Regions from separate parts of the Homo sapiens genome. Here region 2 is linked to region 1. The links come from fine-mapping of genetic effects on gene expression. Tissue or cell type: minor salivary gland. Region 1 holds a variant in brackets; the other region holds the start of a gene. All regions are shown on one strand. Distances are between the middles of the regions.

Region 1 (8,000 bases):
AAAGGGGACTCATGATTAAGAAGGTAATTTTATCACAATGCCAGAAACCTATTTGAACTGGCTTGGGGAAGCAGAGAGAGAAGGGGTGTGGGGAGAGATTGTTTATATTACAAGAACAAAGGAGTTTCTCACAGTCCCAAAGCAAAACGAAGAGCCGGGCTCAAGTGGGTGAGCGCAGTGCCTTCTCAGCCCCCTCTCTGGGTGTACACAGCCCTTTCCCACAGCTTCGCCTCTAGGCTGCTTCCTCTCTTTGCAGCCCAGCCCTTTCTGCCTCTTCCATTTACCAGCTCTGTCTCCCAGAAACCATCAGGAAAGGCCCAGCTAACTCAGAGACCCAATTCAAAATTCACAGGCTTGGGACAGGTGTCCAATGAACCATTCCTGCTCCAATTCATTGTGGCCAGGAGCACAGGTCACATGTCACACAAATACAGCTGCCCAGGGTCATCCTTATGGGAGGAGGGGACATGGGCTGGGCAGACATTCCAAAGCCACCCACCCCAGGAAGGATTCCCGTGAACACAGCAAGTCAGCAGATTCTCTCCTCTTCCTCTCTCAGAGGGCACACTTGGAGTTTGTATACAGCCTTCTAGAAAAAGAATGTTATTGCCCATGAAACTAGGACTCAGGGCCTCCAAGACCTACTTCACACAGTTGGCAAGAATGGTTTTGGCTCCTTTGGGTTCCCTCTCCCAGTCCCCAATAGTCAGTGGCCTGGAGTCACCCGAATCCCCCCATCCCTGCCCCCTCTGCTTCACCCTCAGCTCCATTTCCTTGTTCTTGGCTCCTCTCTTGCTGAGGCCAGCCTCAGCAAATATACTCCCGAGTGTCAGGCAGTCAAATCCATTCACCCAGCAAATATGCATTGAGTACACATGCTGTGTGAACCCATGTCAGGGGCCAGCAGTGCGATGTGAACAAGATAGGCCCTGACCTCACAAAGCTGACCGTGTAGCCACCCATCAGGGAGCCGATGAGAGAGAGAATGTCTGAAAGGACTTGCCCAGAGCTGAGGACCCCAGGATCGTGTCCTGATGTTGACTTCCAGATGGCCATAATGGCTCCCAGATCTTTACTAAGAGTTGAAGTCCACACTGCTTGCTAGTTTGCAGGCCACTAGATCATTTTGTGCTAAGTCAGTCCCCACCCAGTAAAAGCATGATTCTTTGTGTGGCTTTAGTGTGCCTCCTGAAGCGGTCCCCATGGAGGTTATGTTTCTCCCAGCAACTGCTGTTAGAATCCATTCCTATAGTTGGGCTGGCACTTTGTGACTCTTGCTGTTAGCTATAGAACAGAGGGGCTATTACCTGTGGCATTTCTCATTATGTGGATTAACTTCTGACGTGCTGCACACATGTGGGATCCGCAGGGCATTAGAGAAACCCTGACCCAGTGGCCCAGCATGTGGTGAGCTAAACCTTCTGTGGGCAGAAGGGAGGGGCAGAGACAGCGTAGGGGCCTGGGATGGAGGGCCAGAGGTAGCATGGGAGGAGCATGGAGTCTAGAAGCTGAGAAGGATTGGGCCCTTGGAATGTTTAGAGGGAACAGGCTGGTAACTGGTAGTAACAGAGGAAGCATCTCACCTGCTGGCATCAACAATAATAGCAATATCACCTATTGAGTGACTGGTGTACACGAGTGCTGTGCCAGCCAGTCACATTACATGTATTATCTCATTGAATCCCTGCCACAGTCCAGTGAGGGGGGCGTGATTATTACCGCTTCATAGATGAGGAAACTAAGGCTCAGTGGGAGCTTGATGTCTTGCCAGGATCCTACTGCTAGTAATAGCAGAGTCTGGAGTTGAGCCCAGGTCTGGGCTCTTAAAACACCACATGAATAAAGAGGGTCTTTTTGGGATCCTTGGCCATCTTTTTTTGGGTATTGAGGCCACCCACAGGGCCTGACTTGGTGTGGCCTGCTGTGGCCACTCAGAAGGAGCTGGGTCAACCTCAGCCACAGTGCAGTGGAAGCTGCAGAGCCTGGGACCCTCAGGCAGGGCCTGGTGTCCTCTGCTTCTGTTTTCTCAGCTTTAAAACGGGCATACTTGTGGCCACGTGTGATGGCTCACACCTGTAATCCCAACACTATGGGAGGCTGAGGCGGAAGGATTGTCTGAGCACAGGAGTTCAAAACCAGCCTTGCAAAACATAGCAAGACCCTGTCTCTAAAAATAAAATAATAAAATGGGCGTACTTGATCCTCGAGCCTCAGGTATGAAAATGTCACCAGTGGAGCCAGCCTCAATGGGGCAGTGTAGGGGGAGAATGTCAGATGTCTGTTCTCCCCCAGGCTCTGCTAACCTGTGTTGGGGCCTAGGGGGCCTATGGGGTAAACTGGGTCTTGGTTTTCTCATCCGTGAAATGAAGGGTTTGGACTTGACCATCACTAAGCTCCCTCCCAGCTCTAAGACTTAGTGAATTCAGGGTTTGTAACTCCCTGGAGCAGCCACCACTCAGTGACCTCCAATCAACCTTGGCACATTCTAAGTACTCAGTAAGCACTTGTTAAACCAAACCCAGGAGATTAGGAGTTTCTCAGAAGAGCAAAATAATTCCCCAGTGGAGTTTACCTCACACTCTGAAGTGACGAGCTTCCACTGTCCGTGGGCTCTCAGAAAACACCTGCCGAGTGGTGACACTTGGCACTTTGCCTGAGAGGTGGAGGAACAGGAAGTGTATCAGGAGTTTGGGTTTAAAGTTGGGGAGGAAAGAAACCAGCTACATAGCACATTATCGAGCACTGCTTGGTCAGTGTGAGACCCCACAGCAAACACTCCCCTCCAGCAACCCCACTCCACCTTTGGGGCTGTGTGGTGGAGAGGAAGGGCCCTGCTAGGTTCCTCTCCAGCCAGCTCACCTGCCACCAAGGCTCCTAAGGAGGCCCTGGGGAATCTCACAGCACATCCTACCCCTGCCTTTATAAAGGGGCCTGCAGAGAGGATCCTGGGCTCTCCTAGAGACCACAGGCACATAGGAAGCACTCATGGGGAAGGGGGTAAAGGGGCAGTTTTGCCAGTCCTCTCACAGGTCCTCAGCTGCCACCACCCCTGCTGCTGTGGAGACCCGGCTTCCTGCTTGAGGTTCTGCTGCAGCCACTGAGCCTTTCTCTCTCTAGTGCACCTGAGATTTCTCTCTCACCCTCTCACTTCTCTCTCTCTCTTGCTCACTTCTCTCTCTCTCTCTCTCTCTCTCTCTCACTTCTCTGTCTCTCTCTCTGTCTCTCTCTCTCTCAGATCTTTAATTAACTCAGTGTAGCTTTTCTCTCTCAAACACTTTTGCATAATCTTTCTCACACTTACACTTACCACACCTATATTCTCTCTACATATAGCCTCTCTCTCCACCTCCCCAGTCCTTCACACATTCCTTTTCTCTCTCTCTTTTTCTCCCCTCAAACCCCCCTTCTTCTCTCCCCACACCTCCCCTGGTGCTTAACTGGAAACAAAAGTGAGTTTGTTGTGTGAAGAAGAGGACCTGTGGAAGTAGCAGCCAGGGAGGCAGCAGCGGAAGCAGGCTGGGGCCAGAGGCAGCATCGACAGCCAGGGACCCCAGCGCTCAGCTGTTCCAGGGAGCAGGTAATGCCCCAGGCAGAACTGGTTTGCATCCTGCTCTCTGCCTGTCTCCTCTCTCCAGGACCTGTCCATTTATTTGCCTTCTTGTCTGGCCTTGAAGGGGAAAGGGGATTCCAGACTTAGGGAATGGCAGGCACAGGGGCCCAAGGAGTAGCATGCCCTCCTCTTCAGGGATGTGGTCTGCTGTGGCTGGGGTCGGGGTGGCTGGGTGAGGGACATGCTAGAACCTAGAAAGGCAGGTTAGGGCTATATTATGAGGGGTGGTTTGAGCCATGTCACTGACCCCTAGGCTTTAGGCAATAGAGAGACATTGAAAGTTTTTCAACTGGTGAATAACATAATCAAATCTACATTTTATTTTATTTTATATTTTATTTTCTTTTTCATGCCATCCTCCAAGGTACATCAAATCTACATTTTAAAAGAGTAGTTACTGATTTCTGATCCCAGGGAGAATTGGTATGGCCCCTCAGAATCAAGCAGTCACAGTTTTCTCAATTTTAAGAAAAAATAAGGTTATTTTCTCAATTGTTGGTTTTTTGTCTATAAAATTTCTTTAAACATTTGGTGTCTGCTAGCAAGCGCCAGCAATCAATAAGACAATGGAAAGGATGTAAGTTAAAAGTAATAGGCTGGGTCCAGTGGCTCATACCTTTAATCCTGGCACTTTAGGAGGCTGAAGCAGGTGGATTTCTTGAGCTCAGGAGTTCGAGACCAGCCTGGGCAACATGGTGAAACCTCGTCTCTACAGAAAATACAAAAATTAGCCAGGCATGGTGACATGAGCTAGTACTCCCAGCTGCTCTGGAGGCTGAAGTGGGAGGATCACTTGAACCCAGGTGGTGGAGGTTGCAGTGAGCCAAGATTGTGCCACTGCACTCCAGCCTAAGCAAAAGAGTGAGACTCTGTCTCAAAAAAAAAAAGTAATAGAAAAATTGAGAAATTTAAAATTCATTTAAATACATGAGTCCATGAGTTCTGTAGATAATAGTGTGTTCTGCTAGTAAAATGATTTCTAACTCATATGTATAGTGTTTTATGGTGCTATTCAAAGAGAACCATGACTCCCAGGAGCCCATTGTGTGAACATGTTTGAAATGTTTTAAAAGCACACTCTACTGCTACATAGGGAATGGGATTAAATGGGACAACCAGAGGCAATGGCAACAGTAGGTGGCTATTGCAGTGATAGGAGCAGATGATGAGAGCCAGAACCAAGATGGTGG[C/A]AATGGGTGGGGAAAAAAGGAGAGAGCCAAAAAATGTTTATGAAGCAAATGAAAGACATTAGTGTCCAGTTGGACATGAATTGTGAAAAAGAAGGAGCTTCAGGAATGAGTCCAGCATTGTCTAGATGGGTAGGTGGCTAGAGGTGCTATTAATAAAAACAGAGGAGAGCAGGGCTGGGTTGATGGGAGAAGGGATGCAGAGCTGTTTTGAATATGTTGAGGTTGACTTGAGAAGGCTGCCGAGCTTCCAAAAGGAGCAGTCCAATTGTCAGTTGGAATGTTCAATACACATGGGTGTATTGCCTGGACACAAGGGTGACCTCATTTATAAAATGACACCACAAATAACGTGAGCTAGCCCAGAAGGAGTGTGGAGAGAGAAGAGAGAACAAGATGAAGCAGAATCCTGGGCAAGATCAAGATTTAAGTGTTAGCCAGGCAAGAGGAACTAGGGAAAGATATTGAGAGAGAATCTTCAAAGAGGGAAAATATCAAGAAACTGCCACGTTATAAGAGCCATAAGTCACATTTCAGTTCAGAGCGGCGATGATCACCTCTGAAGTTCCAGAGAGATAAGCCAGACCATAGCTTCTCAGTGCTGTTGGTTTGATTGATTTTATTAGCTTATTGGTTTGACAATTAAAATAACAAGAGGGATCTGAGGGCAGGGGTTGTGAATTTGGGTGCATGGCAATAAGTGAGATTAACGGGACACCAGTAAGAAGTAGTGGGGACTGTGGCAAACTAAAAAGCATATGTTTACCTAAGAAGGCACCATCATCAACTCTCATGGATTGTTGCCAAGCAGGAACGTGGGCACAGTGATCAGAACATCTGACTTTTCAAGAAAAGTCAGAGATCTGGATTTCTATATGAAATCTTACAATTCTTTATCTTAGCAATACTTTCAAAAAATTTCATACTCTGCGAGGCCTGAATTAAACACACCTTTGAACTGTCAGTTTGAAACCTCTGCCTTTGTCAATGTCCTTAGCGTGGTGGGGGCTGAGCCAGTGGCAGCAGGCCGGGAACTGATTGGGCAAGGAGGAGATGGAGACCATGAGCACAGACCACTACTTTAGGAAGTATGGGTAAAAGAAAGAAGAAGGCAAGCAGGAGAGCTAAGGAGACAGGCAGGGTCAGGGAACCTGTCTTGGGTAGGAAGAGCTGTTTCTAGGCTGAGAGAAAGAGGGTGGAGAGAGGGAAGTTGAAGATCCAGGTGAAGAAAGACTAGCTGATGAAATAAGGATCTGAAAGAGTTGAGGGGATGGAAGAAAGGATGTTGATGGATTTCATGCCTGGAGGCCTTTATTCTCTTGGTGAAGTGGGGTAGGAGTTGAATCAAGAAGCTTGAAGAGAGGAGCAAAGGTTAGGGACAGCCTTGAGGGACACAGTGAGGGCGCTGACAAGGATGCATGGAAGGATGCCGCACTTGAGACTTGCTGAGGGGAAACCCTTACAGTGGGGCTCATGGGCCTGGATGTGGGTGTTGGTGGTGAGGGGCTAAGCAGCTGTTACCTTCCAAGCCCTGTGTCAGGCATTTCATTCTCTTACCTGTTGTATTCCTCCCAGCAGTCCTGCTCACTCAACTGAGTTCGCTTGTGAATAAGTGGCAGCCCCGAGACTCACACCCTTGTCTAGCTGGATTGGGATTCTATTTGATTCCACCACACTACCACTCCGTGCTGCCATCCCCACCCCAGCCATCCCCCAGCCCAAGCCCTCAGACACACCTGCAGAGGAGACTGGGCCAGTGAATTCTTGTTTGGGCATTGCCTGGCTGGTTTGATTGGGAAGTCAAGGGGAAAGAATGGAGGATGTGATGAAGAAAAGAGTAGAGGTCCATGAAGAAATAAGTGAGGACAGAAGGGAATGATGAACTGAGGAAACAGGCTGGAGGAAGGGAAGACCTGATGAGGCCCAGGAGACAGTGAACGAGAGATTGCGTCGGGGCAGGGCAGTGGGGTTCCTGAAAATTTCAATATGAGTGTGAAGATGAGGGGAAGGGAGGTGAGGTAATGATGACTCCAGGGTGTCTAGCCTGTGCAGTGGGGTGGGCAGGGATGCCTTTAGTCATGGCATTGGTCACCACTTTGACATCATGCCATCTCTCTGTCCCTTGCTCACGTGCTGAACCACACTCACCAGCACGTTTCCACCACAGGGTGTCTGGAACATGCAGAGCACTCTTCCTCCAGATCTGCAGAGTGGCTCGTTCTCATTTTTCAAGTCACAGCTCCAGTGTCCCCTCCTCAGAGAGTCCTTTTGTGACCATGCTATCTACTGTAGCTCCCCTGGTCATTTTGTTTATTTTAGACAACTTATGATTGAAATGGTCATTTATGGATTTGTTGACTTGTTTATTCTCTGTCTCTATCACTAGAGGACATGCTCAAGAGAGCAAGGACACATAGGTCTTCTTCATAGCTTTATTTGGCACATAGTAGGTATTCACTGGAGAGAGAGAGAGATGAAGAAAAGTAAGGAAGGAAGGAAAAGAAAGAAAAAGAGAGAAAGAACACAGGTGAAGTGTGTTTGGGAGAGGAATGTCGAGTTTTGAGGTGCCTGGGAGACACCCAGGAAGTGACTTCCAATGGGCAGCTGGAAAGCAGGCTGGGGCCTCAGGAAATGGACTGCCATCTTGCCCAGGAAGAAAGTGGGCCCACATGGTACAAGGGTGTGCAAGCTGTCCTTTTGCATGGCTGACTGCCTTTTCAAGACCAGTGTTGGAGGATGGCTTGCTTGGGGCCCGGTGGGAAGAAGAACCCCCTCGGGTGGTAAGCTGAAGTTGGGTCAGAGTGCTTCTCACTTCTCTCTTCAGTTCTGGTTCTTGCTACTGCCCTGGCTTCGACCATTTCCCATCATTCTTCACTGCCAGCTGCAAGACCCTGGATCTGAATGCAGACTAAATCTTTTCATCTCTTTTATCTTAAAGAGTATCTCGCCCACCTCTGATTCATGGTTACAGGAGGCCAGCATCACCCAGGAGCTGGACTTAGTTTTACAGAATTAGAAAATACTTTTCCCTTGTGCTTGCCTCCTACTCCATTTCTGTTGGCCTTGTGGTCCTCCTGCCTTCCATGGGACACTCAGCAGACCTGCTGCCCCTCTTTTGCAGGGTCCCCAGCTGCTGAGCAGCTCCAGGACATCCTGGGGGAGGAAGATGAGGCTCCCAACCCCACCCTCTTTACAGAGATGGA
Region 2 (8,141 bases), 860 kb before region 1:
GTTTATCAAAATAAATACATATTTTTTGATATTTTAGAAAATAGATGTCCTATTGCTGCCTTTTATAATAATCCCTCTTATTAAGCCAGACACTGGGAATACATAATATGCATTTTCTGCCTGGGAAAAAGGCAGAGAGCAAGGGAAAGTTAATAAGCTGTGGAAATCTCTCCATGTCCACTTGGTCAAATTAAAATTCTACTGATTACATAGTTGCCTAGAGTAATGCTTTTCCGATAAATGCTCGATCTTCGTCCATAGGAAGATCTCAGGAGACATTTACCCGAAGTGAATCAGATCCAAAGATAGTAAAAAGTGTTGGAGGACCCAGTTGGGTCATAGTTGGAGTCTTGTATTCTCTTTGCCCTTAACCATCTCTATGATCTTTGATGCATTCTTCACACAGCTAGGTTTCCATTTCTCAGTCTTAAAATAAGGTTTAGACCTAACCTATGAGGTAATAATGAGAATTTCCCAAACTCATGTGTGCATATGCAAGTTTCTTGAGAAACAGGCTCTAAACTAAAGCTCTTTTTGGTGGGGACTTGGACTCAGATTCTCTTACTTCCCTGTCTCTAGGTAGAAACACTGCAAATTGTTTTGCTGCTGTAAATTCTCTTTCAATAATCAGAAGATTTTCTTTCAGTCTATTTCCCACATCTTCCTGATAATGGCCAGTAGGCAGAACTGAAAGAACAGAATGAAATATTTGAATTGCTTAAAACCCACATCTCCCTGAATAAGATTAATACATGTATCAGGTTTTATTTCTTCTTCTTTTTTATAGAGGAACAGTTCCATCTAGTGTAAGGACAGGGCACTCCTCTTCCTGACTTCAACCCTTAGGTGGGGGATGTTCCCAGTGAGTATTTGTCACAGTCCTGGCCCCAGGCTATTTCAGGGCTGCCTGGCCACTTACCTGCCCCTTCTTTGACACATTGTTTGTGAACAGGTGGAGGAACAAGGTGGGTACAATCCCCCTTCTTAACTCTTAACAATGCAAGCTCTGATTTTCCTATGTCAAATCCTGTCTTCGTAGGTCGTTATGATGCTTGTTTGTCAGGACCTGAGTCCTCTCTTTTGGGAGAGTAGGAAAGAGAAGCTTGAGTACCTACCCAAAGTCACTGGGTAAGCCTTGCTTCCATAGGTGGGTGAGGAGGACTACAGTGGGCAGATGGTAGTAAGGAAAATGAAAGGAAAGGGAATTTGTTTAGACTTGGAGGAGAAGGGTCTAGCTTTCCTCCAAGTCTCAGTTACCAGTTTGCTCCACGGTGGTGCCTTTCCTTCTTCATCCTCCTCCTTATCAATCCCCCAACCCCTGCCCTGCCACTACCACAGACCTGAATACAAGCTGATGAGATAATCCCTTCTAGCCTCTGTTTCTGAAAACCATTGATCCAGGTCAGCAGCTGGAATGCATGGGAGACATGAGTCCTTTGGAGAAATGGATGGAGCACCCAGCCCCGACTCCCATCTCCATCATGGGAGGAGAAGAGCTGTCAGCTTCATAGTGCTGAGCATTCTTTCTCATTCTCTTAGTCATTTTAATGGAAATGCAGTGTATCCCTACATTTCACTATCTCTTTACTTCATTTAGAAGAAAACTAGACACTAATGAGCATACCCAAATCCAATGTAGAAAGACAGATTGAAACAGGGGTTGGTAAACTTTGTATGAAAGACCAGTATATTCATTTCCTAGGGCTGCTATAACAAATTACCACAAACTGGGTGGCTTGAAACAAAAGAAAATTATTTTCTCACTGTTATGTAGACCAGAAGTCCAAAATCGAGGTGTTGGAAGGGCTGTGCTGCCTCCAGACACTCTTGGGTAGAATTCTTTCTTTTTTTTTTTTTTTTTTTGAGACGGAGTCTCGCTCTGTTACCCAGGCTGGAGGGCAGTGGCATGATCTCCACTCACTGCAAGCTCTGCCTCCCAGGTTCACACCATTCTCCTGCCTCAGCCTCCTGAGTAGCTGGGACCACAGGGGCCTGCCACCATGCCCGGCTAATTTTTTTTTTTTTTTTTTTGTATTTTTGGTAAGGATGGTCTCGGTCTCCTGACCTTGTGATCCGCCCGCCCTGGCCTCCCAAAGTGCTGGGATTACAGGCATGAGCCACCGCGCCCGGCCTCTTGGGTAAATTCTTACCTGCCATTTCCAGCTTCTGGTGGTTCCAGAGGTTCCTTGGCTTGTGGCTGCATAATTCCAGTCTCCACTTGTTGTGACATGGCCTTGTCCTCTGTATGTCTCTTCTCCTCTTCTATCGCTTACAAGAATACTTGTTATCATATCGAGGACCCACCACAATAATTTGTATGCACAATATGATATTTGTCACACTATTCAACTCTGTGTTATAGCACAAAAGCAGCCATAGACAATATGTAAACAAATAGTGTGACTGTGTTCCAGGATATCTTAACTTATGGACACTGAAATTTGAATTTCATAGAATTTTTACTTGTGAAATAGTCTTCTTTTTATTTTTTTCAATCATTTAAAAATGTAAAAATTGTTCTTCACTCAGAAGCCATATAAAAAAATAGGCAGCAGGCCAGCTTTGGCCTATGGGCCATAATTTACCAATCCTGAGTTAGAATAATAGAATATATCCTAAACCATCTTGATTCCTTTTTGATGGTCTCCAATAACCTTCTAATAACTCCAGCTATCTGTTCTGTCTACATTATTCTAAGTGTTTCTATGTCTCTTGACATACATTTGACCACTCTCCTTTTTAAAACTCTCTCTCTTGTTATGTGGATATGATAAAATGTAAATGTAGCTTCACAAGAAATATAATAATGGAGGGTAATTGGTGATTTTCCAAGGCAGGAGGGTGGTTGTCCTGACCTTGTTTGTCTGTATCTGAGCTATGTGACCCTTAGAACAGGAGATGGTGGCCTCTCTGGATGGAATAGAGATTTTACAGGTGAGCTGGACCAGAAGAGCTGGTGATACTCAGGTGGGGGTTGAATGGGGCAGTTGTGAGGCACTTGTGGACATTAGAGAGGTAGAGATAGAGAGAGGAGAGAAAGGGGGAAGAAGGGCATGTAAGCAAAGGGAGGGGGAGACAGGAAAAAGAGGAGAGGAGAAGAGAGGCAGAAAGATGAGCCAAGGTTGCTCACGGCAAGAGAGGAAATTAAATCCAGATGATGCTAAGTGAGCTTGAGGCTCATTAAGCCATACCAGGCAAGAAGACAGTTAGAATTGTCCTTGAGCTGAAGAGGAGAACTACGTTAGGAGCTGCAATCCCAAGAATGGAGAGAGGGTCCTGGAAGGCTTGAGGATGGGGCAAAGATGCTGGGGCTTGGGAACAGTCCCTCAACGTTTTGGGGTTTTTAGATTTTTTTGTTTGTTTTTTAAATGGAGGTCAAAGTGTAACAGCCTTCCAAAATAAACTAAGTTGTCCTTATGCAGCCCTTTCATTTGGTTTGAAAAGGTGAGGTCAGAGATGTTCATGCTCAGTGTGAATTTGGAGACGCAAAGGAGAGAGGCAGAGCACAGACTCATCTGGAGGAGAAAGGCAGCTTCCTGCCTCACTGCCCAGGACTGAGGTAGGGAGCAGGCCAAATGCGAACTTGGAAGCCAGTGGCAGAGGATGGGCCGAAAGGAGGGATAAGGGAGTACCAGGAGCTAAGCAGTGCTGTGGAGAAGGTCTTTTAGGGGACTCTTCCAACAGCAGCAGGGATGCAGGGTAGATAGACAGGGAGAGACCTGGGGCCAGAAAACCCAGAGAAGACAAGACAGTTAGGAGACTCCAGCCACAGTCCAGGCAACATGCACGAGGGCCTAACTTACAGTGGGGATGAAAGGGAATGATAGCTGGGAAACCCTCTTCAGAGGGAATCACCATGGCTCATTGGCTGACAGGTTGTAATTTCTCACTCACCTGTGCTGGGTTAGTGCTGAATCTCCACTGGGTTTCTTCAGAGAGTGTGTGTGTGTGTGTGTGTGTGTGTGTGTGTGTGTGTGGTGGGTTAGTGCTGAATCTCCACTGGGTTTCTTCAGAGTGTGTGTGTGTGTGTGTGTGTGTGTGTGTGTGTGTGTGTGCGTGCGCGCTCTTGGCTGATTATCTCCCTGGGCCAAACTTCCAATTATAAATCTCCCGGAGTGAGTGGCTTCAGCAAAGCAGTCCTTCCTTGTGACATGCTCAGTCTGGAGGTTCTGACTACTCCCCCATGAGCTCTGTAGGGGAGCTGTTTGTTGTTTGGGATTTTCAGAAACAGGATTTTCCTGCTTGGGCAGCAACAGCATGACCCTGAGTGTTCAGATCCCGAGGGAGCCAGGAGCCGGGAGGAAGGCAGCAGCAGGCTCAGCTTCCTGTAGGCCAAGCATTGCTTTGGGCAGTGAGGGGGGCATCCAAGTGAACTTTAGTTGTGCACAGCAAGCCCCACACCCCCGCCCTTCAATTAATCAGTGAGCCAGCAAGCTGGGCCTTTACTGAACTCCTATAGTGAGGCCAGTTTCCTTATCAAAAGTGAATGGCCTCATGGAGAGACCTCAGTCCCACACCCTGAATAAAGCTCAATAGTGCTGCCCACCATCAGTGATTCCAGGAAAAAAAATTTAATGAATCTGATTAGAATACTTAGAGTACACTGATGACCTGGAATTAGCTTGAATAGGAAGAGAGGATACGTGAGGAATTAAATCCTTGCACACAGGAGTTAAAACCACCTCCTCCCTTTTGCATCCCTGGTTGGTCCACCTGGATCCTCTGTCTTCACAACTTAAAAGGGTTAGCAGCCACATGGAAGGAAACAGGGAATGTGCCAGGTGAATTTCAGAAGTTTTGCCATTGCTTCTCTCCAAGTTGTACACAATTTCAATAATACTCTAAGAATTAAGAGATGTATTTTAATGGGTTTTTTTCCTGATCCTATAAACAAATCTTAGGTCATCAGATCTGGAAGAGACATCAGACCTTATGCTCTGCTTCCCTTGTAAAACTGAACGCCTTTAACAGCACAGCTCAGAGTGCAGTCAGTCAATATTGACATTTCACAAGAGAGGTCAATAATTCTCAGCAAGTGAGTAGCTGGTTCTAGCTCAGTCACCCACTTAGGTGTCAGGACTATCTTCTGAGAAGCAGTCTTTCATAACATCCCACTGAGGCTTGGATGCCTTCAGAAAAGATTTCTGACAATTCCTGTGCTTTCTTGCCATAGCATCTTGTTAGACTCAGTCAAGGTGATTGTGTATTGTTCCTACCCTGCCCTCTGCTGAGCTTTTGCCTAAAAGAACTCTTATAAGAAGTCTTAGGCTGGTGCAGTGGCTCACGCCTGTAATCCCAGCAATTTGGGAGGCCAAGGTGGGCAGATCACAAAGTCAGGAGTTCAAGACTAGCCTGGCCAATATAGTGAAACCCCATCTCTACTAAAAAATACAAAAATTAGCCAGGCGTGGTGGTGCACGCCTGTAGTCCCACTACTCGGGAAACTGAAACAGGAGAATCACTGGAACCCAGGAGGCAGAGGTTGCAGTGAGCCGAGATTGCGCTACTGCACTCCAGCCTGGTGACAGAATGAGACTCCGTCTCACAAAATACCAAACAAACAAACAAAAAAGAAGTCTTGGCCCCATCTTTCTTTGGAATTAATAGCCTTTGATCCACCCACTAGAAATGGTAGAGTGAGGTGTACAGTCTATTCTCCTAAGGAACAACCCCTTAGCAGTGAATTTCTCTAATGGGAATGCATTGGGGTGACTAAGAGAGCTGTGATCTATACACCTGTTTAGTGATATTTATCAATCATTTATTAAGCATTAATTGAGCATCTACTATGTACCAACTGTTAAGCTTCCTGTTTTCAGATTTAGAAGGAATCAGACATCTGACACTTTAACTCTCAGCCTCGGAGCATGTATTAGTCCATTTTCACACTTCTGATAAAGACATAACTGAGACTGGGAAGAAAAAGAAGTTTAATTGGACTTACAGCTCCACATGGCTAGGAGACCTCAGGATCATGGGGGGAGGTGAAAGACACTTCTTACTTGGCAGCGGCAAAAGAAAATGAGGAAGAAGCAAAAGCAGAAACCCCTGATAAAACCATCAGATCTCATGAGACTTATTCACTATCATGAGAACAGCATGGGAAACACTGGCCCCCATGATTCAATTACCTCCCCCTGGGTTCCTCCCACAACACGTGGGAATTATGGGAGATACAAATCAAATTGAGGTTTGGGTAGGGAAACAGCCAAACCATATCATTCAGCCCCTGGGCCCTACAGATCTCATGTTCTCACATTTCAAAACCAATCATGCATTTCCAACAGTCCCCCAAAGTCTTAACTCATTTCATCATTAACCCATTAACCCACAGTCCGAAGTCTCATCTGAGGCAAGACAAGTCCCTTCCACCTATGATCCTGTAAAATCAAAAGCAAGCTAGTTACTGCCTAGACACAATGGGGGTACAGATATTGGGTAAATACAGCCATTCCAAACGGGAGAAATTGGCCAAAACAATACAGGGCTCATGCAAGTCTGAAATCCAATGGGCAGTCAAATTTTAAAGTTCCAGAATGATCTCCTTTGACTCCAGGTCTCACATCGAGGTCACAGTGATGCAAGAGGTAGGTTCCCATGGTCTTGGGCAGCTCCATGCCTGTGGCTTTGCAGGGTACAGCCTCCCTCCCAGCTACTTTCACAGGCTGGTGTTGAGTGTCTACAGCCTTTTCCAGGTACATGGTGCAAGCTGTTGGTGCATCTGCTATTCTGGGGTCTGGAGGATGGTGGCCCTCTTCTCACAGCTCCACTAGGCAGTGTCCCAGTAGGAACTCTGTGTGGGGGCTCCAACCCCACATTTCCCTTCCACACTGCCCTAGCAGAGTTTCTCCATGAGGGCCCCACCCCTGCAGCAAACTTTTGACTGGGCATCCAGGTACTTCCATACGTCTTCCTAAATCTAGGCAAAGGTTCCCAAATCTCAATTCTTGACTTCTGTGCACCTGCAGGCTCAACACCATGTGGAAGCTGCCAAGGCTTGGGGCTTGCATCCTCTGAAGTCACAGCCCAAGCTGTACATTGGCCCCTTTCAGCCACAGCTGGAGTGGCTGGGACACAGGGCACCAAGTCCCTAGGCTACACACAGCACAGGGACCCTGGGCCAGATCCACAAAAACACTTTTTCCTTCTGGGCCTCTGGGCCTGTGATCGGAGGGGCTGCCATGAAGGTCTCTGACATGACCTGGAGACATTTTCCCCATGGTCTTGGGGATTAACATTAGGCTCCCTGCTACTTATGCAAACTTCTGCAGCCAGCTTGAATTTCTCCCCAGAAAATGAGTTTTTCTTTTCTATCGCATAGTCAGACTACAAATTTTCCAAACTTTTATGCTCTGCTTCCCTTATAAAACTGAATGCCTTTAACAGCATCCAAGTCACCTCTTGATTACTTTGCTGCTTAGAAATTTCTTCTGCCAGATACCCTAAATCAGCTCTTTCAAGTTCAAAGTTCCACAAATCTCTAGGGCAGGGGCAAAATGCCACCAATCTCTTTGCTAAAACATAACAAGAGTCACCTTTGCTCCAGTTCCCAACAAGTTCCTCATCTCCATCTGAGACCACCTTAGCCTGGATTTTATTGTCCATATTGCTATCAACATTTTGGGCAAAACCATTCAACAAGTCTCTAGGAAGTTCCAAACTTTCCCACATTTTTCTGTCTTCTTCTGAGCCCTCCCAAACTATTCCAATCTCTACCTGTTACCCAGTTCCAAAGTCGCTTCCACATTTTCAGGTATCTTTTCAGCAATGCCCCACTCTACTGGTACCAGTTTATTGTATTTGTTTGTTTTCACACTGCTTATAAAAAACATACCCAAGACTGGGAAGAAAAAGAAGTTTAATTGGACTTACAGTTCTACATGGCTGGGGAGGCCTCACAATCATGGCAGGAGATTCACTGGTACCACTTCATATATGGTGGCAGCAAAAGAAAATGAGGAAGAAGCAAAAGCAGAAACCCCTGATAAACTCATCAGATCTCATGAGACTCATTCACTATCACAAGAAAAGCATGGGAAAGACAGGCCCCTATGATTCAATTACCTCCCCCTGGGTCCCTCCCAACATATGGAAATTATGGGAGATACAATTCAAGTTGAGATTTGCGTGGGGACACAGCC

What was found. PIP is the estimated chance that this variant, and not a neighbour inherited with it, causes the effect.
Region 2: TACR1-AS1 starts here. The variant in region 1 is fine-mapped to the expression of TACR1-AS1 in minor salivary gland (GTEx, PIP above 0.99).

The regions. Positions count from the first base shown.
Region 1 is chr2:74,285,821-74,293,820 of GRCh38, reverse strand. SLC4A5 (solute carrier family 4 member 5) reads left to right here. Exons shown (of 31, transcript NM_133478.3): 8 at 7,919-8,000. Among named protein-coding and RNA genes, the nearest start is that of SLC4A5, 54 kb to the left of the region's middle. RefSeq lists enhancers at 3,239-3,298, 3,043-3,543, 3,544-4,044 and a silencer at 6,912-7,046. The variant C/A (reference allele first, on the strand shown) is at 4,801.
Region 2 is chr2:75,150,325-75,158,465 of GRCh38, reverse strand. TACR1-AS1 (TACR1 antisense RNA 1) reads right to left here and starts at 4,148. Exons shown (of 4, transcript NR_168010.1): 1 at 3,895-4,148; 2 at 2,151-2,262. The region is part of intron 1 of TACR1 (tachykinin receptor 1); the gene reads left to right.